Homo sapiens: one gene and its partners. The protein of the gene in region 2 purifies or fractionates together with the protein of the main gene of each other region. This does not show direct contact. Each region holds a gene or a part of one and is shown on either strand. Other genes may lie near its edges. The genes, in order: PLSCR1, GDE1, UBAC2 and PROCR.

What was found.
Region 1: the proteins of GDE1 (region 2) and PLSCR1 purify together in Homo sapiens (affinity purification with mass spectrometry; 2 studies listed by BioGRID and IntAct, with this or other methods). This does not show direct contact.
Region 3: the proteins of GDE1 (region 2) and UBAC2 purify together in Homo sapiens (affinity purification with mass spectrometry; one large-scale study listed by BioGRID and IntAct). This does not show direct contact.
Region 4: the proteins of GDE1 (region 2) and PROCR purify together in Homo sapiens (affinity purification with mass spectrometry, with the first as the bait; one large-scale study listed by BioGRID). This does not show direct contact.

What each region holds. Positions count from the first base shown.
Region 1 is NC_000003.12:146,518,307-146,526,269, reverse strand, and holds part of PLSCR1 (phospholipid scramblase 1), read left to right. Parts: intron 1-622; coding exon 623-665; intron 666-4,216; coding exon 4,217-4,437; intron 4,438-4,564; coding exon 4,565-4,726; intron 4,727-7,963. UniProt on the Homo sapiens protein: Catalyzes calcium-induced ATP-independent rapid bidirectional and non-specific movement of phospholipids (lipid scrambling or lipid flip-flop) between the inner and outer leaflet of the plasma membrane resulting in collapse of the phospholipid asymmetry which leads to phosphatidylserine externalization on the cell surface.
Region 2 is NC_000016.10:19,513,376-19,521,338, reverse strand, and holds part of GDE1 (glycerophosphodiester phosphodiesterase 1), read left to right. Parts: intron 1-4,149; coding exon 4,150-4,325; intron 4,326-7,963. UniProt on the Homo sapiens protein: Hydrolyzes the phosphodiester bond of glycerophosphodiesters such as glycerophosphoinositol (GroPIns) and glycerophosphoethanolamine (GroPEth), to yield a glycerol phosphate and an alcohol.
Region 3 is NC_000013.11:99,338,546-99,346,508, forward strand, and holds part of UBAC2 (ubiquitin-associated domain-containing protein 2 isoform 1 precursor), read left to right. Parts: intron 1-1,774; coding exon 1,775-2,020; intron 2,021-7,963. UniProt on the Homo sapiens protein: Restricts trafficking of FAF2 from the endoplasmic reticulum to lipid droplets.
Region 4 is NC_000020.11:35,172,540-35,178,275, reverse strand, and holds the end of PROCR (endothelial protein C receptor precursor), read right to left. Parts: intron 3,575-5,736; coding exon 3,323-3,574; intron 2,109-3,322; coding exon 1,830-2,108; intron 1,579-1,829; coding exon 1,463-1,578; 3' UTR 914-1,462; downstream 1-913. UniProt on the Homo sapiens protein: Binds activated protein C. Enhances protein C activation by the thrombin-thrombomodulin complex; plays a role in the protein C pathway controlling blood coagulation.

The DNA of each region.
Region 1 (7,963 bases), on a different chromosome or scaffold from region 2:
TGAGCATTTTTTCATAAACTTACTGGCCATTTTGTATCAATTTTCTTTTCTTTTTTTTTTCTTTCTTTTTTTTTTTTTTTTTTTTTGAGATGGAGTCTCACGCTTGTTGCCCAGGCTGGAGTGCAGTAGCGCGATCTCGGCTCACTGCAACATCTGCCGCCTGGGTTCAGGCGATTCTCCTGCCTGAGCCTCCCAAGTAGCTGGGACTACAGGCACCTGCCACCACACCCAGCTCATTTTTTGTATTTTTAGTAGAGACAGGGTTTCACCATGTCAGCCAGGATGGTCTCGATCTCCTGACCTCGTGATCTGCCCACTTTGGCCTCCCAAAGTGCTGGGATTACAGGCATGAGCCACCTCAATTGTCTAATTTTTAAAGGTACTCCAGTATAAATCAATTTTATTTGACCTAAATTTTTCCACATTAATAATGAACACAATAAATATTTTATTAATTAAAAATATTAACTTCAGTTTTACACTAAAAAGTAATATAAGCTGTTAAATATTGATAATTGGTTACATGTACTTTAAAAATATAAATACATGAATTTTAATTTGGTTAGCTTATAAAAACCTTCATTTGACATATACATACCACTTATTTTTTTTCCTGCTATAGATAGATCAGATACTGATTCATCAGCAAATTGAACTTCTGGAAGGTATGTATTCATTGTTTTAATCCTGTTTCTATAAAGAGTAGAAGTTTATGCAGATAAAGGCACATTGACCTCCACAAATATAACACTCTCACTTATATAGGACAGTTAAACCAGTTATTTACAATAATAAATGTTATCAGCAATTCATTTCTAAAATTTAGGAATCAAAAGGTAAAATGCTGTTATGTTGGGCACCTGCCCTCGGGATATTGACACTAACTTAGAAGGAAAATAATCAAAACCCTTATTTTGCTCCTCTCTTCATACATCACTTTTTTTCTGACTTCTACCACTTAAGCTATTTTCTCCGTAATTGTGATCAGCTTAAGAATGGCACAGAGCCACATTCCAAAGTAAGTTATCTTTTTTATTTGGATGAGGAAGTTTGGGAAAATTATCATTTGTGCCCACAGTTTCTCTTGGGAGTTAAGATGAACCCTATAAAACCTTTGTATACGAGGTCAGATGCAGGCCACTGCAGTGTGGGAGGATGCTGACCAACTAGCCTGCAGGCTTGGCTTCATAGAAGAGCACTCCTGCTCCTGCTGAATGGCCTGACATTTCCTTGGGTCCAGGGCTCCTTAGGTGCAAAAATAAACCTAGGAAGCCAATTAATGTTTTATAATGGCTGCCAGGGGAAGAAGACCCTGGATAGATTTATGAACCATAGTGTTTTCCTTCTAGATAAAAAAGGTTTAATAAAAAATAAAACTCTCCAGTTTTTAGGAATATGTCTGCTAAATTCATTTTCACCTGTCTCCAAAGTTTCTTTCCACTGGTAAAAATTAGAAGATGAATTGTATAAGCAGAATAATGGATTTGGCTAAAATATACAATTGTCATCTATTACATTGAAGTTATTTGTAAAGCACATTATTATTTATAAGTTACTTGATTTTTTTTTTAGTGTATCTAAACAAAGCTTTCTCTGGAAGACAGCTTTGTATTCTGAATTTTTTAATGTTTTATAGTATATATTAGTAAGGCTATAAAATCCAAACAGACATATAACCAAACATTACACAGCACACTATTTATCTTTTTTTGTAGATTTATAGGCTTTATAAATATTTGTTAAATATGTGTTAATTATGAAATAGAAAGTTCCAAATCTAACAGTTTTTAATTATGCTTATTTTTCAAAAAAGAAATGTCTCCAGTTTTTTTTTTGTTTCTTTTTCTCCAAAATTGAAAGTCTATGTTATTTTTTCATGAGTGGTATAAAAAAGATGAAGATTACTCAGGTTTTTAGAATCTGAGCATAAACTAGGCACTTACTTTTTTTTCTCAATTCAAAACACAGAAGACAATAAAAATATAAACAATTTGTTTACATTTTTAAAGTAAATGAAAAGAAACTTAAAGGTTATGTAAACCAATGTTGTTTTACAAATAAGCTGGAGATTTTTGAGATTAAGCTACTTAATGTAACAATTAATTAGATAATGAATGTCCTCTCAAAATCAGCTTAACTTTTTTCTCATCAAACATTTGACTATTTCAGATGTTGAAATCAGACGTTGTTCCTATAAATGCAGAGTACAGGGTCTGTCTGTGTCCCACCAAGGACACTTAAAGGAGTTCATGGTGGTAAGACTTGTGAAGGCCGTCTTTATCCGACTCAGAGTCTTTCCACATAGGCATTATAGAGTGACTTTTCCTCCATATATTTATTTTAATCACTCATTATTTTAGCCAGGCTTCTGACATCTATGACCCCAGTTACTGAGGACTATGTACAAATGGGACAGTTATTGCTCCTTTCTGGCTTTAAATATGGAGAGGTTTCCAATGTATGGTTAGATATGGAAAGCCCTTGATACAAAGTATGTGAGTGTCAGCATTTTGCAGCCATCTGTTTCCCTCATGAAGATAGATTAGCCCAGCAAAGGTGCAGAGTTCACTTAGGATTCCCACGGTCTAGATATTCTGTGAGTTGAAGCCTTGGTTGCCGAACACGTTTGTCTAATACCCACCTCCCACTTCTGAACAACTACTGTTGAGTTGAATAAGGATGCCCTGGGTCCAATGTGACATTCTAATTCATCTTTCATTTTTACTCCCTCGGTTTTTATGCGTGTACATTGCCTTCTTTCAAAAGCATTGCAAAAAAATAAGACATAAGTAAGGTTTATAAGACAGTCTCAAACCAATTGATTTAATATAAAATTTCATAGCACATAAACAGCAATCCTCTTATATTCCCCTCCACATTACACATAAACTATCCTGCATTAGTGGACATTTTATCTATACACCTAGCACCACCGTGCCCACCCACAGCATTGCCCCAACTCTCAGCAGAAAAGTCTCTCTTCTGACAGACATTTATGGAATTAGGAAAATATAACTTGTTTCCAGTGTCTCACATAATGAAGGGATGGGTTGCCCCTCCACACTTGTGGGTGTTTCTTGTTAGGCGGAACGAGAGACTTGGAAAAGAAAAGACACAGAGACAAAGTATAGAGAAAGAAAAATGGGCCCAGGGGACTGGCATTCAGCATACGGAGGACCCGCGCCAGCACCGGCCTCTGAGTTCCCTTAGTATTTATTGATCATTATCGGGCGTTTCCCGGAGAGGGGGATGTGGCAGGACAATAGGATAATAGTGGGGAGAAGGTCAGCATGTAAACACGTGAACAAATGTCTCTGCATCATAAAAAGGTAAAGAAAAAGGTGCTGTGCTTTTGATGTGCATATACATAAACATCTCAATGCCTTAAAGAGCAGTATTGCTGCCAGCACGTCCCACCTCCAGCCCTAAGGCAGTTTTCCCCTATCTCAGTAGATGGAATATACAATTGGGCTTTACACCTAGACGTTCCATTGCCCAGGGACGAGCAGGAGACAGATACCTTCCTCTTATCTCAACTGCAAAGACGCGTTCCTTCCTCTTTTACTAATCCCCCTCAGTGCAGACCCTTTACGGGTGTCGGACTGGTGGACGGTCAGGTCTTTCCCTTCCCAGGAGGCCATATTTCAGACTATCACATGGGGAGAAACCTTGGACAATACCTGGCTTTCCTAGGCAGAGGTCCCTGTGGCCTTCCACAGTGTTTTGTGTCCCTGGGTACTTGAGATTAGGGAGTGGTGATGACTCTTAACAAGCATGCTGCCTTCAAGCATTTGTTTAACAAAGCACATCCTGCACAGCCCTTAATCCATTTAACCCTAAATTGACACAGCACATGTTTCAGGGAGCACAGGGTGGGGGGTAGGGTTACAGATTAACAGCATCTCAAGGCAGAAAAATTTTTCTTAGTACAGAACAAAATGGAGTCTCTTATGTCTACTTCTTTCTACACAGACATGGTAACAATCTGATCTCTCTTTTCCCCACGGCATAAGGACTTAATTTCTCTATACATTGGTAATCTCTCCTTTTTTTTGCCATTTTTCTCTGTCTGGATCATCTCTAAACATCATTTCTTCTCCTCCTTATGCCACTTGGGGTATCATCAAAAACTGGCATAGCTAGATATTATAATATCTGGATAAATTCAATATTTTTAACATAGAGGTGATTATGATTTCGTCTTTTATGTTTTTAGTTTTAACAGGTTTTGAAACTAATAACAAATATGAAATTAAGAACAGCTTTGGACAGAGGGTTTACTTTGCAGCGGAAGATACTGATTGCTGTACCCGAAATTGCTGTGGGCCATCTAGACCTTTTACCTTGAGGATTATTGATAATATGGGTCAAGAAGTCATAACTCTGGAGAGACCACTAAGATGTAGCAGCTGTTGTTGTCCCTGCTGCCTTCAGGAGGTCTGTGATCAATTACCAGGGCACTTTGTAAAATAGTTCAGCAAGAATTTCTGCCCTGTCATTGAACCTTTCATCGAACCTAGGCATTATGATTATTACATTTACATATATTATTTTGCCTTTGTAGATAGAAATCCAAGCTCCTCCTGGTGTACCAATAGGTTATGTTATTCAGACTTGGCACCCATGTCTACCAAAGTTTACAATTCAAAATGAGAAAAGAGAGGATGTACTAAAAATAAGTGGTCCATGTGTTGTGTGCAGCTGTTGTGGAGATGTTGATTTTGAGGTAAGAGATGTCATAATGTTTATAAGATTTGCTTTCCTAATATAAGAAGAATGTAATTTTGCAGGACATTATAAATGCATTAAATAAGTGTTGTGTGCCAATGTCTCAATAGCAAGATGATTTTCTCATTTATTTAACTTTGGGCAGAGTGGTAGTTATCACTCTGATTAAAGGTCACTGTTGGTCATGAGAAATGGAAAAAAAAGAAGCAGACCTATGTAGTCAAATAAAAATAAGCAAATCATCCCTCACTTAAACGTGGTGGTTTCTATGTGATGACACTGTATATTATCCATTTTAAACAGAACGTTAACCTTGCCATCTAAGTCTGATTGCCAAAGCATATGGATCCTTCTTAAATCTGAAATATCATCTGCCAATGCTCAAGGCCATGTTCAGAATGTCTGACATCTTTGAATTCCTACAAGAAGCCCAATTATGCAAAGATAGTTTTGAGAAAATTAGTATAATATGTACTACCCAGTTATGCTTCTCTGTGGTCTCTCCTTTTCCCTATATTAAATTAGGTCACTAGAAGCTGCAACATATTAATATTTGTATATTTACTGTAATACATTGTAGAATTTCATTAGAGTAGCTCTTCAACAACAGATGGTCTACTTTTACAATCCAAATTTTTTCATTGCAAATGTTTAAAAATCAGAAGGTTTTATAACTTAATCTTGATTTCTTGTTTCTCTTGGAAAATCAGAAAATTGGGTTAACTGGGCCCACCTTTCCAACAAAAGGGTAAAAATCTACTAAAGATGTGTGGGGCTGCCCCTTGTAATAATGACATGGGAACTCTACCACTGTCTCCACCCCTTACTGAGGTTTTTCAATATCCAGTGTCATTCATTTATGTGATCTGCCTGCCTTCTTTAATCACATGGTATTTTATTCCTCCGTCAGACTTTAGCTATATAAAGATGAATCCTTTCCCCCATTGACTTCATAATCTAATGACAGAGATTTGCAGTTCTAAGGAGGATGTGATATAGAAACTTTAAAAAGGCTCTTATAAGGGGATTATATAATGTGTGTATGTATATGTGTGCATAATATGCATGTATAAAAATTTTATGTAAGGGTATGCATAATAGCAGTTCTTCATGTAAGGGATGGAATCTCTGTCCTACATCCAGAGAAGTGAAAAGTAATTTCTCATTCAAGGAACAATATTAACAGAAGTTTGGCTGGCATATATTTTATTTTTAGTAAATAAATGAAAACACTGGAAAAACATTGTGTAATCCTTGTATTTGATACTAAAAAATTTATGTTTCATCTGGCAGTCTTTCTTGATGGATACCTTAAAGCATCCATTCCATGTAATAAATTAACTTTTCTTCTATTTATCTAGAATGATGATATCAAGGTACTCTCATGGAAAGAATTGAGAAATAGTCACTTGAAGAATTTTCCATAGAGTTGACAATGGAAACTTTGACACCTCAAAGCAGAAATTATCAGTATGAGGGACCACTAAGGAACATGAAATCCACCAGGGTGTCACTGGGCATGGAAACTTGAAGTAATAAAAGAGATAAAAGCCTGTTCCACAGCAGGGGCAGGAGTCATTCTAAAACAGAGAATAACTCAAGAGGCATTTCATAGGTGTACTATGTGGAACTAATTCATGGATTTGATATCAATTGAGGATGAAAAAAATTTTGGAGATAAACTTGATGTGTTATTATTCTGATATTACATTGGCCAAGTTAAGAATCTTGGAGGAAAAACACTTGATTTGTGTCCTCTTGACCATTATGATAGTCTGCTTTTTAAAAAGTAAGGTATCAAATACTAATACACATCTAGGTCAGGGATCAGCAAAATATAATCAATGAGCTGTAGTTGATTATATAAAATATATATGGGAAGTTAATGACTTGAATTAAGGTCATGTTGGATTTTAGTTATGTATAGGAAAAGAATGGAGAGTTTTCAGCAAACAGACAGTAATTGAATCTCTAAGAAGGTTATCTTAATGGTGAGTAAGAGAGAGCCTAGTAGACCTTTTATCCAATATAGGTGATAAGAGAGTCTGTCTCCTTCAAGGACTCTTGGTAGGGGGAAAAAATATGGCCACATGAAACTGACATACCAAGTCAGCTCTGTCTATGAGCTTGAAATCTGAATTCCTGCCACTGTTGTGTTTCAGGAATCTCAAAATATAGAAACTGATCCTGAGTAGTGATAAATTTTATATGGTCAACTATAGCCCACAGATTTTTTTTCCTGCCCTCTCAACTAGATTTTCATTAGTATTCAATAAATATGTTTTTAAAAAGCAGACAATCCTAATGGTCAAGAGTATAGACACTGGAGCCAGATGCCCAGGTTTGAAACCCATCTTCACAACACTTATCTATGTGACTTTAACAAATTCTTTCACTTCTCTTTGCTTTAGTTTTTTTACATGAAAATTGGGTGTAATAACAGTAAATAAATAAATCATTAGTAAGTAAATAAAATAGCTTACCAGCAACTATTAATATACTCATGATACACTTTTTATATTTCTTTGCTACATACCTAGATCCTATATGCTGTCATTATATTTCAGTATTTTGCATTTATATTTGCATTGTGAGATGAATCTATGGTTTTCTTTTTAGAATGCTTTTACCAATTAGTATTGCACTCATGGATTTGAAAGTTTAACATTATACAATACCAATTTATTATTTCCAAATGTTGACATTTTATTATAGTGATTTTCTATTCCAAAATGTCTACAATTTAGCTAAAAATTATCTAGTCCTGCTAATTTATTGGTTGAAGATCATTATTTGCATTTCTTATCCTTGCCATAAAAAATGTATTCTCTACTTTGTTAAATTTCTTGCTGTAGTAATCAAAAAGGGCAAATGTTAATATCTTTATCTGTATAGTGTTGAGTTTACGGTGGCTAGTAAGTTGTCAGCTGCATTTTTCATTTTTTTAAATTTCAGAATTAAAAAATAAAACATAAGAGTTTTCATTACTAGCTTCAAATGCTTCAATGACAGCTATTAGCAGAAAAATACTAACATGTACAAGAAAGGATTTGTATTAGTTTATTTCACCACAGTAGTATTTCATTACACATAATCCCTAAAACTCAGCAGCTTGCAATAAGTGTTTATACTCATGCTTATGGGTGTGTAGGTCAACTGTGTTTCAGTGGATGTATTTAAGCACTGACTTAGGCGCATGTTAACCTCAATCTGCTCCAGGTAGATTTGTTCTATG
Region 2 (7,963 bases):
TCGGGGGAACTCGAAGGAAAGAGTTACGCTATTTTATTTAGATGGAATAGTCAAGAGAAATCGTCTCCGAAGAAGCAACATTTGAACAGAAACCGGAATTATAAGGAGCCAGGCAGGTGCAGAAGGTCCTGAGATGGGAATAATATAGGGGTGTTCAGGTAACAGAAGAGGCAGTGTGTGGCCTGACTTCAAGGAAGAGAACAAAGACTGGTGTGTGAATGAAGTAGAAAATGGGTCAGGTCAAATAGGTTCTTGGTCAGTAATTGAGGTTAGTCTAAATAGATCACCCTTCACAAGACATACGTTTGCTTGTCTTGTAAATCACTTGAGTCATTTCCTTATCACCTTTTCCCCAGACACACACATTCGCACTCGCACAACCCTGGCAGCTGGACTCACATCAGTTTCTGCCCCCTCCTTTTCACAAGGCACTCCTGAAACTTTTGATACCTCCCAGCTCTTGGCATTCTCCTAGCTTCATAATAATGACAGCTTACAGAGAGGGCTTTTCAGTGGATTAGGCACTTTTGCATCTGTGTAAATATATCTGATTCTCTTCTTTTTTATTTTTCTCTCTCTTCTTCCTTCCTTCTTCTTCTTTTTTTTTTTTTTACTTTACAGAGTCTCACTCTTTTACCCAGGCTGGAGGGCAGTGGTGCAATCTCCACGCACTGCAACCCCTGCCTCCCGTGTTCAAGCGATTCTCGTGCCTCAGCCTCCGGAGTAGCTGGGATTACAGGCGTGTGCCACCACGCCCAGCTAATTTTTGTATTTTTAGTAGAGATGGGGTTCTGCTATGTTGGCCAGACTGGTCTCAAACTCCTGGCCTCAAAGTGATCCACCCGCCTCGGCCTCCCAAGGTACTAGGATTACAGGCATGAGCCATCATGCCTGGCCTCCCTCATTTCCTTTTTTTTTCTTTTTTTTTTTCTTTTTTTTTAAACGAAGTCTCACTGTCTCCCAGGCTACAGTGCATCGGCGCAACCCCAGCTCACTGCAACCTCTGTATCCCAGGTTCAAGTGATTCTACTGCCTCAACCTCCCGAGTAGCTGCGATTACAGGCATGAGCCACCGTGCCCGGCCAAGATTTATACTTTTAAAGCTGCACTCTGGCCCATGTGGAGAATGTACTGTGGGTGTAATTTCATTCCTTTGCCACTGTTTATAGTAGTGTATCTGTTTTTGGAATACACTCAACTCACATTTATCAAGTTTTTCCTTCTATATCTCATTTATAATCTACCAGAAATTCTAGCACTGTCAGAAATGTATATATGTATGTATACATTCGACTTTACCAATAATTTTATTTATTTATTTATTTTTGAGACAGGGTCTCTCTCTGTCACCCAGGTTTGAGTGCAGTGGGGCGATCTCAACTCACTGCAACTTCCACCTCCCAGGTTGAAGCGATTCTTGTGCCTCAGGCTCCCAAGTAGCTAAGATTACAGATGTACTCCTCCACTCCCAGCTAATTTTTGTTTTTTGTTTTTAGTAGAGATGGTGTTTTGCCATGTTGGCAAGGCTGGTCTCAAACTCCTGACCTCAAGTGATCCACCTGCCTCAGTGGATTACAGAGTGCTGGGATTACAGGCAAAGTGCTGGGATCACAGGCATGAGCCACTGCCTGGCCAGCTTTACCAGTACTTCTATGTTATTCCAGTAATTGAGATAAAAAGATGAATCCCTGGTTCTAATTCACATATTAGTATATATAGGAGATATTGCAAGTTCAGTTCCAGACCTGAGTAAATAGTCAATAAAGCAAATATAGTAATAAAGGGAGTCACAAATTTTTTGGTTTCCCAGTGCATATAAAAGTTATGTTTACACTATATTGTAATCTATTAAGTATTGTGTATGTATATATATATATATATATATATATGCACATACACACACATATATAGGTTTTCATCCATGGTTCCTGGCTCATAACTCTCAGCCCTTGCTACAGTATTTTGTTAGGCATCCTAGGCCTTAGGAGCAGGCCTTGGGAAACAGAATCTCTCCTGCCCTCCTTTCACCTACCCCAAGGCAGGACTGGAATCTTTCCCTGTCTTTCAAATTGTGAGTCTTAAGACCCTCCTCAGAGAGGGACCCCACCCTATACCCTGGGGGAAGGAATGCTGACATCATGAAGCTTCCATAAAAACCTAAGAGGAATTAAAAAAATAAAAACTAAAATAAACCTAAGAGGACTTGAAGCCAATTGGTCAGAAGTTCCATAGGCCCCAGCTTGCTATTTGTGTCTGGAGGAGGGTGGGGTGCAGTCTTGGGGACCAAGCCCTCAACCTATGATCTGACACTATCTCCAGGTAGATAGTGTCAAAATTGAGTTGGAGGATACCCAGCTGGTGTCCACTACTTATTGGTGGGGAAAAACCCCCACATTTTTGGTCACAGACGTCGGGGTTGATTGTTGTGAGAGCAGAGGGAAAATGTGATGTGTTTTTCCAAAATAGTCGTACATCTGTATCACATGGGAAAAGGAAAAGATTTAAATAAAGCAGAAAAATCTCCACCCATAAAGGACGTTATTGATAAATTTGACTATATTACCTTTAAAGATGTGTTTAAAAGGACATAATAAATAACAATGGCTAACATTTATTGAAATCTTAACTATTCACTAGCACAGTGCTCTGTGTTGTTTATGGGTACTTAAATAAAAACCGGTAAGGGAGTGACATGAGAATGATATACACCAACTTTAAGATGGTAATTACCTCTGGAGAGGAAAGGAGGAGAATGAAAGGGAGAATTTCAGCTGTATCTGTAGTGTTGATAGTAAAACTGAAGCGGATAAGAGTGCAACTTCTACTGCATCCTAGCTTGTGCAGCCCTGGGCAAGTTTCCTACTCTTTCTTTGTCTCAGTTTTCTTATCTGTTAAATGAGAATATTAATAGTACCTGCTTCAGGGTTGTGAGGATCAAATAAGTTAATACATTTAAAGCACTTAGAAGAGTGCCTGGCAAGTAGAAAAGGCTCAATAAATAATAGTTTTTGTTTTTGTTTTTGTTTTAGTACAGAAAGAGACTGAGGAAATTAGGTCAAAATATTCACATATGTTAAATCTTTTTTACTGTAGATGTTTGCAATAGACCATGACTTAAAATATTTTTTAAAAAATTAAAAATCTTGATCATAGCTGGGCACAGTGGCTCACACCTGTAATCCCAGCACTTTGGGAGACTGAGGCAGGAGGATTGCTTGATCTCAGGAGTTCGAGACCAGCCTGGACAACATGGTGAAACCCCATCTCTACAAAAAATACAAAAATTAGCTGGGCATGGTGGCACGTGCCAGTAGTCCCGGCTACTTGGGAGACTGAGGTGGGAGGATGGCTTGAACCCAGGAGGCGGAGGTTTTAGTGAGCCGAGATCATGCCACTGCACTCTAGCCTGAACAACAGAGCCAGATCCTGTCTCCAAAAAAAAAAAAAAAGAAAGAAATCTTCATCGTAATGAGCATTTCACATCTTTATTGTGATGAGGAAGCCAAGGAAGCAAACATTAAATAGTGTGTCTCCAGAGGAGCATGGCTCGTGTAATTTAAGGTTCAAATTCTCTTTTTAGATAAATTCTAATCTACCTCATCAAGCTTAACAACTTATGGGCCAACAGCCAGTGCTGCTTACATAAACAAAATGTGATATGTCCTAGAAGCAGGCGTGGTGTCTTTGTGGTAGAGGGTGGAATTAAACCAACAAAAACCTGACTCATTTATGCCAAAGTAGTGAAATATCTGACTAATCAACAACCGTAGGGTGATCATCAGAACTGCTGTACCAACAAATAGTGTAGGTAAACAGTGGAATTGTCTAAGTATTCATAAGCCATTGATGACCCATATAGTTAAACATCCAGAGAAAACATAAGTTCCTGAAGTCTCCTAGTCTTCCACTGTGAAAGTAAGAAGAGTGGGAAAATTAAAGTTTTTAAGGAATCCATCAGTTAGGAATTGAAGTAAGGTTATATACACAGAAAACAGAAACAGATCAGGATTGCTGTTTGGTGGGGGAAGTGGAAGGAAAATGAATCAAAAAGGACAGCTGTCTTAGGAGCCCTGCTGGTCTTTTGGGTGGTTAGATGCAAAATAATGTTTGTGGCCATTTGACAGTAATATTCTTGATGTTTTTGTTAAGGCAGCTAAGAATGGAGCAACAGGCGTGGAGTTGGACATTGAGTTTACTTCTGACGGGATTCCTGTCTTAATGCACGATAACACAGTAGATAGGACGACTGATGGGACTGGGCGATTGTGTGATTTGACATTTGAACAAATTAGGAAGCTGAATCCTGCAGCAAACCACAGACTCAGGTAAGTAGTTTATTGTCACTTAAACAGATCTTTTAGCTTTTATTGGAAATGACAGACACTGGTGCCTTCTAATTACATCTGCCCCAGGAGAGTTGTCTTGTTTTGTTTTGAACTGTACGTAGGTCTTGTAAGTAATGAGCAAGTGCCAGGAACAACAGAAATTTGGCATTATGTTTTTAATCTTTCCCACTGAGGCTAAATTTGGCTTCAGAATTATTGTCAAGATAATACTGTCTAGTCATAGAATCATGAGGCTGAAAGTCATTGCTTGGCAATCTTCTTGCCTTCAGGTGTACCAAGAAGCAAATTATACATTCATTAAAAGCTTCAAGTAACATTATAATATCACATTTTAACTTAACCCATTTAATTCTTCTGATCCTCATAACAAACTTCTGAGGAATCACAGAATTGTAGGAATAGAGAGTATCCTAGAAATCATCTAGAATAGCACTTTGCAGTAGAACTTTCTGCAATGATGGAAATATTTTATATCTGCACTGTGTAATATGGTAGGTACTTGTGGCTATTGAGCACTTGATATGTGGCTAGTGACACGAGGAAGTGAATTTTTAATTTAAATGTAAATTTAAACTGAAATAGCCATGTGTGGCTACCATATAGGATACTACAGATCTAGATCAATCTTGCCTTTAGATATAATCCCAGAAAAGTTAAATTATTTACTCAAGGGCAAATAACTAGTTCATAAAGAAGCCAAAACTAGAATCTATCCCAAGTTTTAGTCCAAATCATGCTGTTTTTAGCTGCCCCCAATGTCTTTCAACCCTGTAAGAGCAAAAGTTCTTTCAGTGTCTAATTTAATTCCTTCCTGGTAGAGTGTAAACGTAGCTTCCAAAGTATATACACTAGAGCTAATCTTACAAGATGTTCTGCAAAAACAGGGTTCAAGTAAGATCAAACAGTGTATTCTGAATACTTCTGTTGTGGATAAACAGTCCACATCAGCTGATTCTTACTTGTAACTTAGCTTTTCTCAAACTTACATGATCACAGAACCTACATCCTCTTCCCCACTTACAGCGGTAAACACCCTTGGAATTGGTATGCTGAGTAATATACTGTACTTTGGAATGTGGTTATTTAAATCCCTCTCTGCTTGTCATCTTTGCAGTACTGAAAAGGGTGTGCTCACTGGTTATTCATGTAATATCAATTATCCAGACAATGATCGATTCTCTTGGAAAATTAAGTATTTGACCCAACAGTTAAGTTATACTTTTTCCTAAAAGATGATCCAGACCTGTTTTCCTAGGATCTGAAAAACATTAGTCTGCCGAAGGAAGTCATACTGTAGGCAGGAAAGAATATTGGTAACACTTGAGAATTATGAGTCCAAGTTGCTAGAATTGTTCTTGAGTGTCATCAGATACTGTATTGCTCTGCTTATGCAAGGGAAAGGCTGGTTTGAATATTATAATGACATTGCAGCTAATAAAATGTCAGGTTCAAAGTTAATACTTAAAGCAAAAATGTTTAGGGTCATCATTACCCTTAAAAATCCTTTAAGGGAGCACTGAGTCCATTTCTCTGGAATTTGTGCATCCTAGGAAAAAAAATTGTGATTTTCAAAAAATCCCTTAAGAAGACAGCAAAGGCAACATATTATCTCAGTGTCTTTAACACAACCAGTCTTTGCTCCACTATTGGAACAGAGTGTGTTCTATGATTGAAAACTAAATGAAGTAATTGGCTTGTGTTTACGGATTATGTTGTGGGAAAAAATAGATATTTTCTCTAGAATTATGCTCAGTGTGATGAGATGCTTGTCCTGAGAGGAGGATAAGGAGGAAACTAAGATCAGCCAAAGGAATAACAAATTCAGGTCTCCCATCTTTCACTCTCAGGGAATAGAAATTGATTAGAATGGCTGGGATAATTGCCTGTAATGTTTAAATTATCCTTATCTTTTTTTTTTTTTTTTTTGAGTTGGAGTTTCACTCTTGTTGCCCAGTTTGGAGTGCAATGGCATGATCTTGGCTCACTGCAACCTCCACCTCCCGGGTTCAAGTGATTCTCCTGCCTCAGCCTCCAGAATGCTGGGATTACAGGCACATGCCACCACACCCAGCTAATTTTTGCATTTTTAGTAGAAACGGGGTTTCGCCATGTTGGCCAGGCTGGTCTCGAACTCCTGACCTCAGGTGATCTGCCTGCCTCAGCTTCCCAAAGTGCTGAATTTACAGGCATGAGCCCACTGTACCTGGCCTATCCTTACCCTTTTTTAAAAGCATGATCTTACAGTTGAAATAATGCAGTTGAATTAGCATTAAGTTAAATAATAATTTTATTATGAGAGAAAAGCTAATTTCTTTTGTATCAAGCACTTAGTTTTCATTTTCTTTATCAGAAAATTATGTCTTAGAACATTATTTATTTTAAACAGTTGCACTTAAATAAATACACAATACAGTTAACAGATTTATGTATTCCTAAGAATTCCTCCTGCATAGCATTCTATTAGGGAAATTACAATCTGAAAATTAAGTCTTTGAGTTTTCCAAAGGTGGCATATACTCTGCCCTTTGGGAAGTAGGGTTATTAATAATGTTATTAATTCAATAGAAATTCAGTGATTTCTTAAAAATTAAATGATTTTTGTTGTTGTTGCTGGTCTTTGGTCAAGAATATCTGTATTTGAACACATGGAGGTTCCTGAATGATGGAGCACTCAGAAAGGGCATGGAAGCTCTATGCCCCTTTCCCCATACCTCACCCTATGCATGTCTTCATCTGTATGCTGTGTAACATACTTTATAATAAACCTGTAAACGTGTTTGAGTTCCGCAAGCCACTCTAACAAATTAATTGAACCCAAGGAGGAGGAGGTGGGAACCCCAATTTATAGCTAGTGTCAGAAGCACAGAATTACCAGAAAAGGAAAACAAATCAAAACAAAACAAAACAAAAAACAGAAAAATAACATCCATTATACAATATAAGAAACCAAAGACCATCAATCTCTAATCTCTGTGCTCAGGTGTCTGTGTGCTTCAATTCTTCTCATCTACGAGTCTTGGGTTTTCAATGCTCACTTGTCACCAGGATATGAATTAAAAATGTCTTGGGCACCACCATGTGGTCCAGTTGTCTTAACCTTTCTAAAAGTGCTTGTGCAAACCATTTACTTGTTGCTTCTTACACAATTACAGCCCAACCTACTTGTGTTTAAAAGCAACCACAGCATGTTTGAAAGTCTTATGCAATAAAAGGGAAGTTTATGATTACATTTAGTCTGTACTTACTGGATACTTTCAGTTTTATCAGTTCCAAGTACAGCAAACTCTGGATAATATGGTTAATTACTTCCTCCATGATTCTTTCGACCTTCATATCAATTTTGCTAAATATGGAATGATTGACTAGCCAGAGCAATCAGGAAAGAGAAAGAAATAAAAGGCATCCAAATTGGAAAAAGAGGAAGTCAGATTGTACCTCTTTGCTGACAACATGATTTTGTATGTAGAAAAACCTAAAGACTTCACCAAAAAACTGTTAAAACTGATAAACAAATTTAGTAAAATTGCAGGATATAAAATCAACGTACAAAAATCAGTAGCATGTCTATACGTAAATAATGAACTAGCTGTAAAAGAAATCAAGAAAGTAATCCCATT
Region 3 (7,963 bases), on a different chromosome or scaffold from region 2:
CTTGATAAGCTTTCTATTTTGTTAGCATGGTTCAGGATTAGTTTCTGGTTTCATGGACCTTGGAGTTTGTTTCTGTTTTCATTTTCTTTGTCTTGTACTATTTTTGAGTAAAGGGGCACAGAAATTATTTGAAACCAGAAGTTGTCCACCATTCACTCTTCAGCCTACTACAGTCTGTCTTTGGTACCAAAACTGTTCTTGTAAACACCTTGTTTATCAAACACCTCCATTTGCAACATCCAGTGGCTAGTTCTGTCTTACTTATCAGCTGCATTAGATATAGCTGACCATCCCTATTTTAAAACACTTCTTAGCTTCAGTGATAACTAAACTCTATTTCCCTTCTCTTCACTGGCAGCCCTGTCTCAGATTTCCTTACTGGCGTTTCCTACTCTGTCTGTCCATAGAATATTTGTGCACTCCTGGATTCAGTCCTTAGTCCTGTTCTCTCTTCTGCTGTGTCTCCTCCTCCCCCCCATTTTATCTCCTCTAGTCCTGTTACCCTAAATGTCATATCATATCCAGTGACTCTGAAATCCTTATCTCGACCTTTTCCTTGAGTTCTAGAATTACATAGCCACCTGCCCACTCAGTAGCCCCCCAAGATATCTAATAGACACTCCCAAGCTCGGGCTGCGCAGCATCTGCTGCTTTCTCTGCCCAAAATGTTATTTCCCCAGTTCATCAAGTCACGGGCACCGCATCATCCTTAAGATCTTCGCTCAAGTATCACTTTCTCTGAGGGCTCTCCTGATGTCCCCCGCTGCCCCCAGAGTAGGTTCGTGCCCCATGTCACTTTATTTCCTTCCCAGAACTTGCCAGAAATAGTTTTATGTGTTGACTTGATTACTGCCTGTTCTCCACATTGACTGCTATAAGCCCTGTGAGAGTGGGGCCTTGCTTATCTTGTTCTTTGCTGTATTCTAAGTTCCCAGAACAGTGCCTGGTGTGTAGCACAGTCTCAAAGAATTCTTGCCAATTCATCAATTTAAATTTTATTTTTAAACATTGAAGTATACTTTTCTCATATTAGAAAGTTGTCAAATATGTTCTAATCTGATCTTCTAATCCTAAGAATCAAATTCACATCAAGATTTTTTTTTTTTTACAAAGGAATAGCCATAGTCATTTTTAACTAGAAAATCATAGGAAGCCTTGAGACTTCTGTAACCATACATTATAAATGACCTTCAAGATGAAGACAAGGTTGGTTTATAAATGGAACTAATATTGGTGAGGATTTTAAATGTCTAGAAAAATCAGTAGTTGAAAAACTGATTAAAACACTATGTAAATAAAAACCAAGATTTTAGATTGTGTTTATTCTCTGATAAATTGATCGTGTGACTGGGTCAGCTGAGACATGGCAGTTGTTTTCTGCTGGTGTCTCTGTGATGGCCATCTGCCAACAAAGGTAACCGCAGAGTCAGTACAGTGTGAAAGTGTTTCAATAATCAGATCTTTTACGGCTTTTTAAAAAATGAAGACAGTGTCTTGACAATCTTTTACCAGAACTTTGAATACTAAATGATTAGAATTTTGCTAGCTCTTCTAATTCAATAAAAAACAATTTTGTTTTACTAAGTTCAATTTTGTGTTGATTTGCACTGCTTAGTGTTCTGCAGTGTGGTAGAGGATTTTGCTTATTGCCTAACACTGCTATGACTAAGAAAAATACCGTGTGCAGTGTCTGGAGGCTGCTGATTTTTGAGTCGTGTACATTTTTTAAAATAATACTACATTTAAACAATCACATTGGACGTTTTTCTTCTAGATGTCCGGTCTGTGCTACGACAGCAAAATGTTCCAGGTGCATCAGGTGCTCTGCATCCCCAGCTGGATGGCAAAATTCTTTTCTTGGACACTTGAACCCATCTTCTCTTCTTCAGAACCCACCAGCGAAGCCAGAATTGGGATGGGAGCCACGCTGGACATCCAGAGACAGCAGAGAATGGAGCTGCTGGACCGGCAGCTGATGTTCTCTCAGTTTGCACAAGGGAGGCGACAGAGACAGCAGCAGGTAAAAGTGATAATAATCACTAAAAATTTAGAAATTCTCAGTGGCCCAAGCAAATCTTTCCTCTGTGATTGCATGTGAGATAGAGACTACATTTTATTCCAGTGCCTTGCAAGTGGATTTTGACATTTCCAAAGAGATTGTAGGTCTCTGTTAGTGGCCATTCTTAGTTTTTTAAAAAGGTAAAAAATAAATTGCAGCTGAAAGATTGGTCAAACTGGACATTCTTGTTCCACCTATATTAGATAAGCATGACTTCTTAGAGAAACACCAACCTAGTTAACAAGATGTGCTATTTATCTGTTTTTATAATCTTGTAAAAGCCACAGTGTCTTCCTGTTAAAATGCTAATCATATGCTATGGAGTGAAGAACAAATGTAAAATTTCTTGATTTTCCTTGGTTGAAATGAAGAGAATATGAAGGCAAGAAGATTTTCAGTGGAACAACCAAGGAGTAGATAAAAAAAAATGCTGTGTTTTCTCAACCTTGCTATCAATAATCAGAAATTATTGCACATTTGTCTACAAATTCTGCATCCAAACAATCTGATACTACATTTGTCTTCCATGGGCAGTGAGAGAAGGAGGGTTAGTGCACATCAGGCTAAAACCTCAGGCCTGATCTTTCTTGGACACTTCTGTGAGCCAGCCCACAGGGCTCCCCATTTTTCGCCTCCACCTTCTTTACCCCTGGGGTAGTTGTAAACCGTACAGTTACCTCTGCCATCTCTCTGTCTTCCACTAGCATTGGATGCAAGAAGTAGGTCTGCAGATCTCACGATGGTTTGGAGAAGTGAAATCAGGTTTGAGGTCCTTAGAGTCCCATTGGAGATGCAGGTCCCAGAGTTTATATCAGGGGGGGGGAGGAAGGGGGCAGCTTATTAGGGGCAGAGTCTACAAGAGAAATAGAGAAGCAAAAGTTGTTTCTTAAAGATGTGCTTGAATTTGAGTGACTCTGGAACATGCCATAAAGATGCCCATGGTGTATTTAAAGCTGGAGGATGGACATCTCTGTCTTGGAAATGTGGAAGCTACATATATATATAGGTGATGGAGTCACCTCTGTAGGGATGAGAGCTGAGAGCCGAAAGCAAAGAAGTAGTAAGTTCTGTAAGAGAAGAGCTACATCCAAGATGAACACAGGCTACAGATGAAGCCTCGTATTTAGCAGGAGGTAAATCCTTCAAGGAAACTGAGAGAAGAGCGAAAGGTATGAGAAATCAGAATGATCAAGGTCAGAAAAACTGAGTAGTGATTGAGTATAAAGGTAGAGGCACAGAGCTTATGAGGGAGAGAAAGAAGTAGGGGATGGTTCTGATGTTTCTGGCCTAGATAATCTTAGATAGATGACTGATAGTTCCATTTCACCAATATCAAAAGAGCAGATTTGGGGGAAATATGTTGTCTGAGATACCTTTGGAATCCTGGGAGGAGATTCTCCATTGGAGAGCTTTGAATTTGTCCTCATAAGCAAACCAGAGAAGTTGCATTTCTCAGATTGGCCTCCCCAGGAAGATTTTTATACAAAGAGTTTATGAGAGAACACCGTCAGCATCAGTATCTATGGGGGCGGGCTGGCGAAGGCAGCAAGATGGGACAGAGGGAGCAGCTGCAGTTCCAGCAAAAGCCTCGCTGGTCTTATGGAGCACAGTGAAGCTGGGAGAGCCCTTCTGAGTTGTCCCAAAATGGGGACCAGTCCTGTTGGGTAAGTCCCATGCGTACGACCTCTTTGAACCTTAATTACCTCCTTAAAGTTCCTACCTTTAAATACAGTCACATCGTAGGGTTAGGGCTTCAGCGTGTGAATTTGGGGCAGGGGCAAGGGGTGGGAGACAGTGTGTTCCATAACACTGCAGAGTGGAAAGGGCCCAGCATAGTCTCGGCGCTGAGTGACTGTTCTGCTTGCAGACGGTAGTTATCAGGCACACACAGTCTCTGTGGATGCCAGGTTGGATGCTCCATAGTGGCAGGAGATAGGTCGGCCTAGGTGAGGGGGACCCACACATTCCTCTGTGCTACCACCATGGCCATCCATTCGTGTGCCAGCGCTGGGTTATCTGGTGATGGAGCCACAGTCATTCTGTCCACCTTCCATTTGGTGCCTTTTCTGTGGTGGATGCCCGTGGTGGGCACGACCTGCAAGACACTTGATGCTGTTCCTTTAGCTGGATCCTCCTTGTTCCCTCCCTTCCAGTCCCCTGACCGACCAACCAGGTGATCTGCCATGCCCAGCAGATCCACACGTGTAATTGCCTCAGGCCACTTCTCTTCACACAGAGTTGATGACCAAATGTGCTGCCCAGGCTCTGCCCATAGGGGGTTCCCCTGATCGCTGTCTTTCAAGATTGAGCCATCATGCAGCCGTTTCTTTCAGCTGCCACTCATGTCCTGAGCCAGCCTGTCCATTTGGCTGTTTTCCCCTCTGTCACTTGGTCATGAGGGGCCCACCAGCTGTGGTAGTCGGTGTTAGCTGGGAAGAGGCTGTGGTGCAGCAGAGGTGGCTGCCAGGGTGGTCTGGCATGCCTGCTTCTGCAGCTCACCCATGCCCTGCAGCCCCACCTATGCTGAGCCCAGATGCCCGTGTCCATCTGATGATGGGTTTCTGTCGGCCCACCTGGCTTGGTAACTTGGTGGGTCTCCACTGCTGACCACATGCTCACTTTGTGGCCTACAGACAGGCACTTCATGGTGCAGCAGCAGTTTATGCAAGTGGGATTCTTGGCTGTTTGCGCACGCCCTCGCTCCAGGATTCTACGGACCCCCATTGTGGTTCTCCTTTCCTGCCTTGCTGTAAACTCCGCACGGTGTCTTTCCCCCCAGATACTTGGAACATCACGGGATCTGCCAGGTTGTACCCAGGCCTCAGGGAATGAGACAGACCCAAACCCCTGCCCTGCTGGAGCGTGCATTCCCACCAGGCGCCTGTGAAGTGGCACAGGCCTTTATGGCTGTCTACACTGCTGTCAGACTCCTCCACTTTCATAGGATGGTCTCACTAACAGATCTGAAGTCCAGAGCAGGACACCAGCCCCTGGGCTCTTGCTGGGCTTTTACGTTGAGTGGTCTGCTGGGCAGCACAGACCAGACTCTTGATTTTTTCCTAAGCTTCCTAAGTTCTCTTCTAGGGTCCGCACATGGGTACACCCAAACCTGAGCACTTAGCCTCCTGCTGAACTTCTTCACTCAGCTGTGTCTCAGTTTTCTTCACATAAGTATGATAAATCACCACGTAGAGAACTCTTTTGTTAAACCACCACTGGAAATTATCTGCCGTATTTGTGTGCATGCACGAGTACCGTACAGGGTGCAGTTGTATTGGAATGTAATACCAGGAGAAAAGTTTATTTTCATTTACTTTTCAACAAATAAGTACTTAGTGCTTATTATATGGTAGGCCTAGAGCTGGACATTGAGGACACAGGTGTAAAAAAGATAGCCCCCAGTCCTTTTTCTTATGGAGCTTAGGTCCTGTCTCTCTTGCAGAATTAGCATGTTTCACTCTTTATCAGTAAGAAGACCACCACCATTTATTTTGCCAGTCCTATAGTAAGTACTCAGTATATGTTATCTCATTTATGCCCGGTGTACGCCTAGAGAGATGCAGGTATTCCCTCATGACCCCGGAGGCTCAGGGGAGTGCTTGCTTGTCCAGGGGCATGCAGCTGTTGATGGGGATCTGGGAGTGAGACCCAGCTGTGTCTGACTCTGAGGTCTCTGTTTCTGATCCCTAACTCATATACCTCCCAATATGAGAGCTCCTTGGTGATTTGTTTTCCCCCTTTTCACTTTGGCTGGCAGGAAACTCAGTGCCAGGCTTCAGGTTTAATTAGGGTTAAGTTAGAACTTTTGCTTCCATCTTCTTCTTTATGTTTCAAATACATGTTTTTGTTGTTTGCTCCTGTATCTTTTATTGTAGGCAATCTCATGCTGTGTATTTCATTTAAAATACAACTGTTATTTATTTAAAAACTTGATTTTTAGATGCTTTTCATAGAATCTGAGTTTATTTAGTCAGAAAGTCATTTTTTTTCAGTTACTAACTGCTGTATGTTACACATGATCTGTCTGCAGTTTTTCATTTCAGGTATTCCAAAATAACACTCAAGTCTTGATTCAGTGTTGTATTTCTTTAGATTTCTCTTGCCTGCTTATGCCAGAGTTCATCCTGCCATCTGGCAGGTGCTCGCTGCCACCCCCTGCCACGTGCTCCTCGTGTGGCTCTGGGGGCACAGTTAGACAGTTAGACTGCTTGGGAAGCTCTCTGACCAATACTGGTGGCTTCGCTGTGGGCACAAAATAAATGAAGAACATGTCCTTTCCCTCCGTGAGTTTGTGGCCAACTTCAGGGAGCTCAGGCAGTTGTAGTTGAAATAGATGAGCATCCAAGAAACAAGGAAATATTTACTGAAGCACCCATGCAGTGAAAATCTGAGGAGAGAGCCACTGGTGTGGACTGATGCTGCCAAAAAAGATTTCAGGAAGTAGAAGGACGGGTGGAATTTGGATGGGTGGAGAGGGTAAGGCACATCATTCCAGAGGAGAGGACCAGCAAGAGTGAGGCATGGAGGTGCTAATGAGACCTTAAAAAGGAGAGACCTCCAGGAGCCCTGTGATTGACATGTGGGCAGATATGTAGTGAGAAATGGGAAATGATATAGTAACTGATAATGGAGGGAGGTAGTTTAAGCCTGACAATAGATTTCGGCTTGGACATTGGCTGTGAAAAATTGTTTATTCAGTAACAAAGATAGGACAGTTATCTCAGAAAAATGTCATTTTATTGCACAGTGTAAGATGGACGGGGGAAAGGAGAAACCACAGAGGAGGAGACAAATAGAAGGAGGTTTCTAAAGCCCGGCTCTCAGAGGAGTGCCTTGGCTGGGCTGATGCTGTACTCTGGATCGAGCTCTCCTTCCTCTGTTCACTCCCTAAATAGGTTGTTTCCCAAGACTCAGTTCTCTGCCTACTGAGCTTTTCACGTTAGACACCCAAGGGGACCCACCCAGCCCCTGTCCTCACCACTTTATTGAGCTCATGGCTCCCATGAGTCCCTCAAGATCTAGAGACTGGACCTCCCTCTCTCCTGGGGCTCCAGACCGAAATATCCTACTGCCTATAGTACATCTCCACTTCACTGTCCCATCAGCTCTTGACAGGTACTGTTTCTTTTTTTCTTTCTTTTTTTTTTTTTTTTTTTGAGACAGAGTCTTGCTCTGTTGCCCAGGCTGGAGTGCAGTGGCGTGATCTTGGCTCACTGCAACCTCTGTCTCCTGGCTTCAAGCAATTCTCCTGCCTCAGCCTCCCGAGTAGCTGGGATTACAGGCGCTCACCACCACATCCGGCTAATTTTTGTATTTTTAGTAAAGACGGGGTTTCACCATGTTGGCCAGGCTGGTCTTGAACCCCTGACCTCATGATCCACTTGCCTTGGCCTCCCAAAGTGCTGGGATTACAGGCGTGAGCCACCGCACACAGCCGACATGTACTGTTTCTTTGCTAAATTTGTTTCCCTTTCTCACTCCCTACCTGATGAAAAGCACCCATTGTTTACCCGAAAGTCCAAACCTAGGGTTTCACCCCAGACATTTCCCACTTATACATCCATGTCCTTCCTGCCTTCCCCACCAGTTCAGCCCCAAAGAGTCTCCCTCCTTGATGTAAGTCCGTCATTCATCTCCAGTGCTGTAGTTCAGGCCACCGGCGCCATTTGCCTGGATTTCTTCCCTCCCATCTCCATCACCGACTGCCTCCCTCCTGAGCCTGCCCCACAGCCTCCACCAGTGATCTCTGTGAAAACAGAAATCTGCTTGTTTCACTCCAGCTATCATCCTTCAGGGCCTCTCCATAGCTTTCAGGGTGGTTCCAACACAAGGCTCCTGCCTGCTATGTGGCCGCATCTCCTTTCTGCTGCCGTGTGCAAGCCCTTAGGCCAGCCATGCCTCACC
Region 4 (5,736 bases), on a different chromosome or scaffold from region 2:
CGTGCCACCAAACTTAGCTAATTTTTGTATTTTTAGTAGAGATAGGGTTTCACTGTGTTGGCCAGGCTTGTCTTGAACTCCTGACCTCAAGTGATCCTCTCGCCTCGGCCTCCCAAAGTGCTGGGATTACAGGCGTGAGCCACCGCGCCTGGCCGACAAAACACATGCTCTTAAAGATAAAATTATATTGCTTCTCCATGGAAACCACAGGTAGATAGTATTTGCAGCCATGAAGGTCAGTAGGTCACCTAGAAAGGGTATAGTTCAAACAGGAACAAAAGGAACCAAAAAATGGAATTCTAAGGAAGCCAGCATTTCCAGGGTGAATCGTGTAAGATGACATAGTCAAAGGGATTGAAAAAAAGTAGACAGAACAGTTTTAAAAATTGAAGTATGGTATCTCAGAAGTTAAGGCAAAAAGAGAGTTCTAGTCCGCAAATTTGCAGATACCATGTAGGGTGATGGTTTGACAATTAGAGGTTACTGGTGATCTCAGAGTAGTTTATAGAGAAGTCAGATTGCACTGGGTCTAAGAATGAGTGAGAAGACCAGGCGCAGTGGCTCACGTCTAATCCCAGCACTTGGGGAGGCCGAGGTAGGCGGATCACGAGGTCAGGATGGCCAACGTGGTGAAACCCCATCTCTACTAAAAATACAAAAATTAGCTGGGTGTGGTGGCATGCATCTGTAATCCCAGCTGCTTGGGAGGCTGAGGCAGGAGAATTGCTTGAACCGGGAGGCAGAGGTTGCAGTGAGCTGAGATCACACCATTGCACTCCAGCCTAGGCAACAGAGCAAGACTCTGTCTCAAAAAAAAAAAAAAAAAAAAAAAGAATGAGTGAGAAATAAGGAAGCAGAAGAAATGGGTATAGGTTACTTTTCCAGAAATTTTGCAAAGTGGAGGAGATAACAATGCCTTAAATATAAGAAATTTATTAATATTATTAATTGATTAATAATTGATCACTGCCATATGACTTGGATTTTACATTTCCACCACTTCTTCGTGTTACTTCTTTCTACCCTATTATATCAGCGTCCCATCCCAAGTCTGACACACCTGGAAGTATTGAATGTTGTATTTTGATTGTGGATGACTTGTTTATTTGGTTATATCTTTTGAACGCCTCAGGTGATTCTGTCTGTCTTTGGAGGATGGGCCATAGGCTTCCTGCCCCAACTCCATTATCTGTTTTCCACAAAGATAGATAAACATTCACTTATCAGACTAATTCAGCAAAGCATACACGTTCTTAGGTTCTTAGCAAACCAAGTACTTTGTCCACCTCTCCTCTCCATCTCCCCTCCCTCAAATCTTCAGTGGGCAGATGTGGGAGAAGAAAGGAGCTGTCACTCCAAACCTTCTGGTGTTTCAGTTGGGGAGTCTGGCTTCACAGTGAGCTGAAACTTTCCCTTGCCAGCCTCCATCAATCCAGCCCCTTCTGAGGGGGCTGGAGAGTAATTAACATCGCCGTCCACCTGTGCACAGGAAGATGCCTACAGCCACACCAGCAATGATGAAACTGCCCACCAGGACGCCCAGGACCAGCGAAGTGTAGGAGCGGCTTGTTTGGCTCCCTGCAGAACATGCAAAGAGTTAGCCCGAAGAATAGGCCCCCAAGGAGTCCATGATTTGAGTCAAACCCCAAAGCGTTTCTGCCCCAGAGGAAAGGGACCCGTTTACCAACTGACTGAAGCTGCGTGTGTTCTGTCCCAAACCCCCAGCTGTGGGCCTCTTGTTGCTCTAGGCATCCATCCTTCAGGTCCATCCATTTGTCTGGAACCCGCCCTCTCCCCAGCTTGCAGGCCTGGGCCCCGTCCCATCATACCTTTCGTGTTTTCCGCGGAAATATGTTTCTGCACATACTGCACACAGGTGTCCTCCAGGAATTCCCGCAGTTCATACCGAGTGCGGTTGTAGGCATTGAGCTGCTGCAGGGTGAAGGTGACCACTCCGGAGGTGACCTGGGTGTCTGCCTGCCACAAGGCTCTCTCCGGCCGGAAACTCACAAAGGAGCTCCCATTCACAGCCACTTCGAAGAAGACATGGGCTCTAGAGCCCTCGGGAGGCAGCTCACAGCCCAGGAAGCAGCGGATGGTCAGAGGAACTGTGGATAGACAGTCAGGGTCAGGGGACTGTGCAGAGAGGGTGCCAGGTGTGGGGCGAGGCCCACCAAGGGGAAAAGAACATGAGAAGGCAAGAGTCAGTGCTGTGAGGAGAGGGGAGTCTAGGTCAGGGAACTATGGGGAGAAGGGCCTGGGGCTGTGAGGAGGGGTTTGGGGTTAGCCTGTTAGAGGCTAAGAAAGAAGGGGCCAGGGACTGTGATGAAAAAAGGGAATTGTCAGGCCTTGTTCAACTGTAATAGAAAAAAAAAACAGGGGGTGAGGCTGGGGCAGGGGCGGCAGCTCACGCCTGTAATCCCAGCACTTTGGGAGGCCAGGCTTGTGGATCGCCTGAGGTCAGGAGTTCGAGACCAGCCTGGCCAACATGGCGAAACCCCGTCTCTACTAAAAATACAAAAAATTAGCCGGGCGTGGTGGCGGGTGCCTGTAGTCCCAGCTGCTTGGGAGGCTGAGGCAGGAGAATCGCTTGAACCCGGGAGGCGGAAGTTGCAGTGAGCCGAGATCGCGCCACTGCACTCCAGCCTGGACGACAGAGCAAGACTCCGTCTCAAAAAAAAAAAAAAAAAAAAAAAAGGGGGGTGGGGTGGGGGACTAGGAGAGAAAGGAGTTAAAGGCCATGATGGTGGGGGAAGGGGGACGGAGTGGTGCTTGGTGCTTTGAGAAAAGAAATTGGGGTCTTTGAGAAGAAGGAGTTAGGGTTGTGACGGGGAAGGAGTGGGGCTTTGAGAGAAGAACTTGGGGTCTTTGGGGGAAGAGTTCGGGTCATGAGTGGAGCTAAGAGCGAAGTCATCAGCTTGTATGAGAAGTGGCTGGAGGGTGGGGGGTGAAGTGCTGGGGGCTGTGGGAAGGGAAGGACGGAGATCTATGAAGAAAAGGAGTTGGAGGACTGTGAGGCGAGGGGTGAGGAGTTTTCTGGGGACCTTCGACGTCACGGTGTCAGGGCCTTCCAACAGGGTCTATCCCAAGAGGTTATGCCAGCAGGACGACCGCCCGAGTCGGGGCTTTCTTAGCGGGGACAACTGCCTCTCTCCAGCCCCCACCCAGCAATCTTCAAAGGCCCAGGCGCCACCGAGCTCCAGTGGCTGCCGGGTCCCTGCAAGTCCCAGCCCGCCTCCATCCGCCAGGCCCCGCCCCCACCCGCCAGGCCCCGCCCCCACTAGCCCCGCCCAGACCCCGCCCCCGCTGCGCGCCTACTCACAGGCCAAGGTCCGCTCCTGGTGCACCAGGCGCACGAGGCCGTGGAACTGGAGCAGGTAGGACTGCAGGCCACTCTGCGTGCGCGCCCAGCTCTCGGGCTCCTGCAAGGGCTGCAGCTGAATGATCGTGGTGTTGGTGTCTGGGCCTTCCAGCACGTGCGTTAGGTGTCCCCCCAGCGACGCGTTGCCCTGGTACCACACGTGATAGGGGTCGCGGAAGTAGGAGATCTGGAGCATATGAAGTCTTTGGAGGCCTGCGGGCAGAGTCAGCTTCAGCCTGGGCCGGCGTGGGAGGGGGCGGCGGGCAGCGGAAGATAATAACCCCCTACCTCGAGGCTGGCCGCCCGCCTTCTCGACCCTTCATAAACTATAATGTGCCCTCCCACCGCTTCTCCCGTTTGACGCTGACAGTAACTCTGCCAGGAGGACAGGACAGGGATTATTATCTCCGTTTTACAGATGAGGAAACTGAGGCCTGCAGTGGAAGAGACACTCCTTTCTGCCTCCTTTTTCACCCTCGGCTCTCCCTCCCCCCGTTTCCTGTTAACCAACGGAACAAATGGTTAACAAATCCTGACCTGAATAAAATTCCAATTCCATCGCCTGTTCTCCATCTCCTCTTCCACTGCCCTGATTCAGGATTCATCCGTCTCATCTAGACTGGGGTAGTAACTTTCTACTTCATCTCCCCGTTCTCTATTCCGACCTCCACCTGACCCAGGGATGAGATCATGTCCTTTTCCTACTTAAAATCTTCCAGTGCCATAACCCCCTCCCCTTCATTAATCAAAAATAATCATAGCCAATGTCGATTCAGTGCTTATTATAACCTGGGCAATGGGCTTTACATACATTATTATCTTTGTGCCTTTCCCCAGTGGCTTAATGCAATAGCTACTATTATTAACCCCAGTCTACATGGGAAACTGAGACAGAGATAGTGTAGCAGAGCCAAGGTTTGCACGTAGGCAGTCAAGTCCAGCACTCAGCCATTCTGCTACACTGCCTCCCCACAGGATCAAGTCCAGAGTCTTTAGCCTGGCATTCAAGGCTGCTAGAGACCTGGCCCCTGCTGCCTTTTCTGGCCGCTTCCCGCTGCTTATATATCAAACTAGTTGGGATTCCTCATGCTGCCTTTGGCTGACACATGAATAGCATGTCAGGATTGCTCTGCCTCCCTTTTTCTGCCTGGCGAAGTTTATTCATGATTTAAGACCCAGCTCAGAGACTGGGCGCGGTGGCTCATGCCTGTAATCCCAGTACTTTGGGAGGCCGAGGCGGGCGGATCACTTGAGGTCAGGGATTCAAGACCAGCCTGGCCAACATGGCGAAACCCCATCTGTACTAAAAATACAAATATTAGCCAGGCGTGGTGGTACATGCCTGTAGTCCCAGCTACTCAGGAGGCTGAGGCAGGAGAATCGCCTGAACCTGGGAGTTGGAGGTTACAGTTAGCTGAAATTGTGCCACTGCATTCCAGCCTGGGTGACAGCACAAGACTCCATCTCAAAAAAAAAAAAAAAAAAAAAAAAGAAAAAAGAAAGAAAAGCAAAGAAAAAAAGACCCAGCTCAGTTGCCCTCTTCTTGGAAATTTTTTTCTGATGCCCCACGAGACACAGTGTGTCTGTTTCAGTGATCCCAGACCACCATATATTAGTGTGTATCTCACGGGATACTACCTGGCTGTCTCCAAACACACACAGGCCACACTGGACTCCTCTAGGCTATGGAACCATGCTTGGTAATCTCTGCTTCCTACACCCAGAAAAGAGGCTGGCACAGAGTTGATGCCCAGAGCACATTTGGATGAGTCCGGGGTTGTAAATCTGTGTGTGTGAGTGGGTCCTGTCTGTGTTTGCATTTGAGAAGTTGTGCTTTGTATCTGCAGATGTGAATAAGTATATTTATGGATAACCCTAGACATGGTCCTTAACTACTCTGTGACCCAGTTTCCTCCTCATAAAATGGAGATAGTAATAATATTACCCACCTTTAGGGGTTTGTGCAAGTTAAATGGGTCAATACATGTATTAACCATAGTGAGCACTCATTGAATACTGGTTATTATTTGCTGCCTCTCTGAGGGGGAGACTGAAGTTACGGGGATTGTGAGAGAGGGGAAAGGAGGCCCCTGTGCAATTATAATGGAGGGTAATAACTCCCTTTTCTGCTTAAACAGGGCCACTTCAGTAGCCTGATCGCCCATAAGTTCTATTAGGCACAGCATCTCTTTCTCCCCAGTTCCACCAGCTGCGACCAGTCTCCTTCCATTTTCCCTAGCCTCCCCTAACCTCTCTCTGCCCCACTCTTCCCCCACTTCTTCCATCAGTTTTCCCAGGGTCTTCCCATTCCCTCCATTTCTCTTCTCTTCTGAGCCTCTTCCCGTCTCCCCTAGATGTACCCCTATCTACCATCA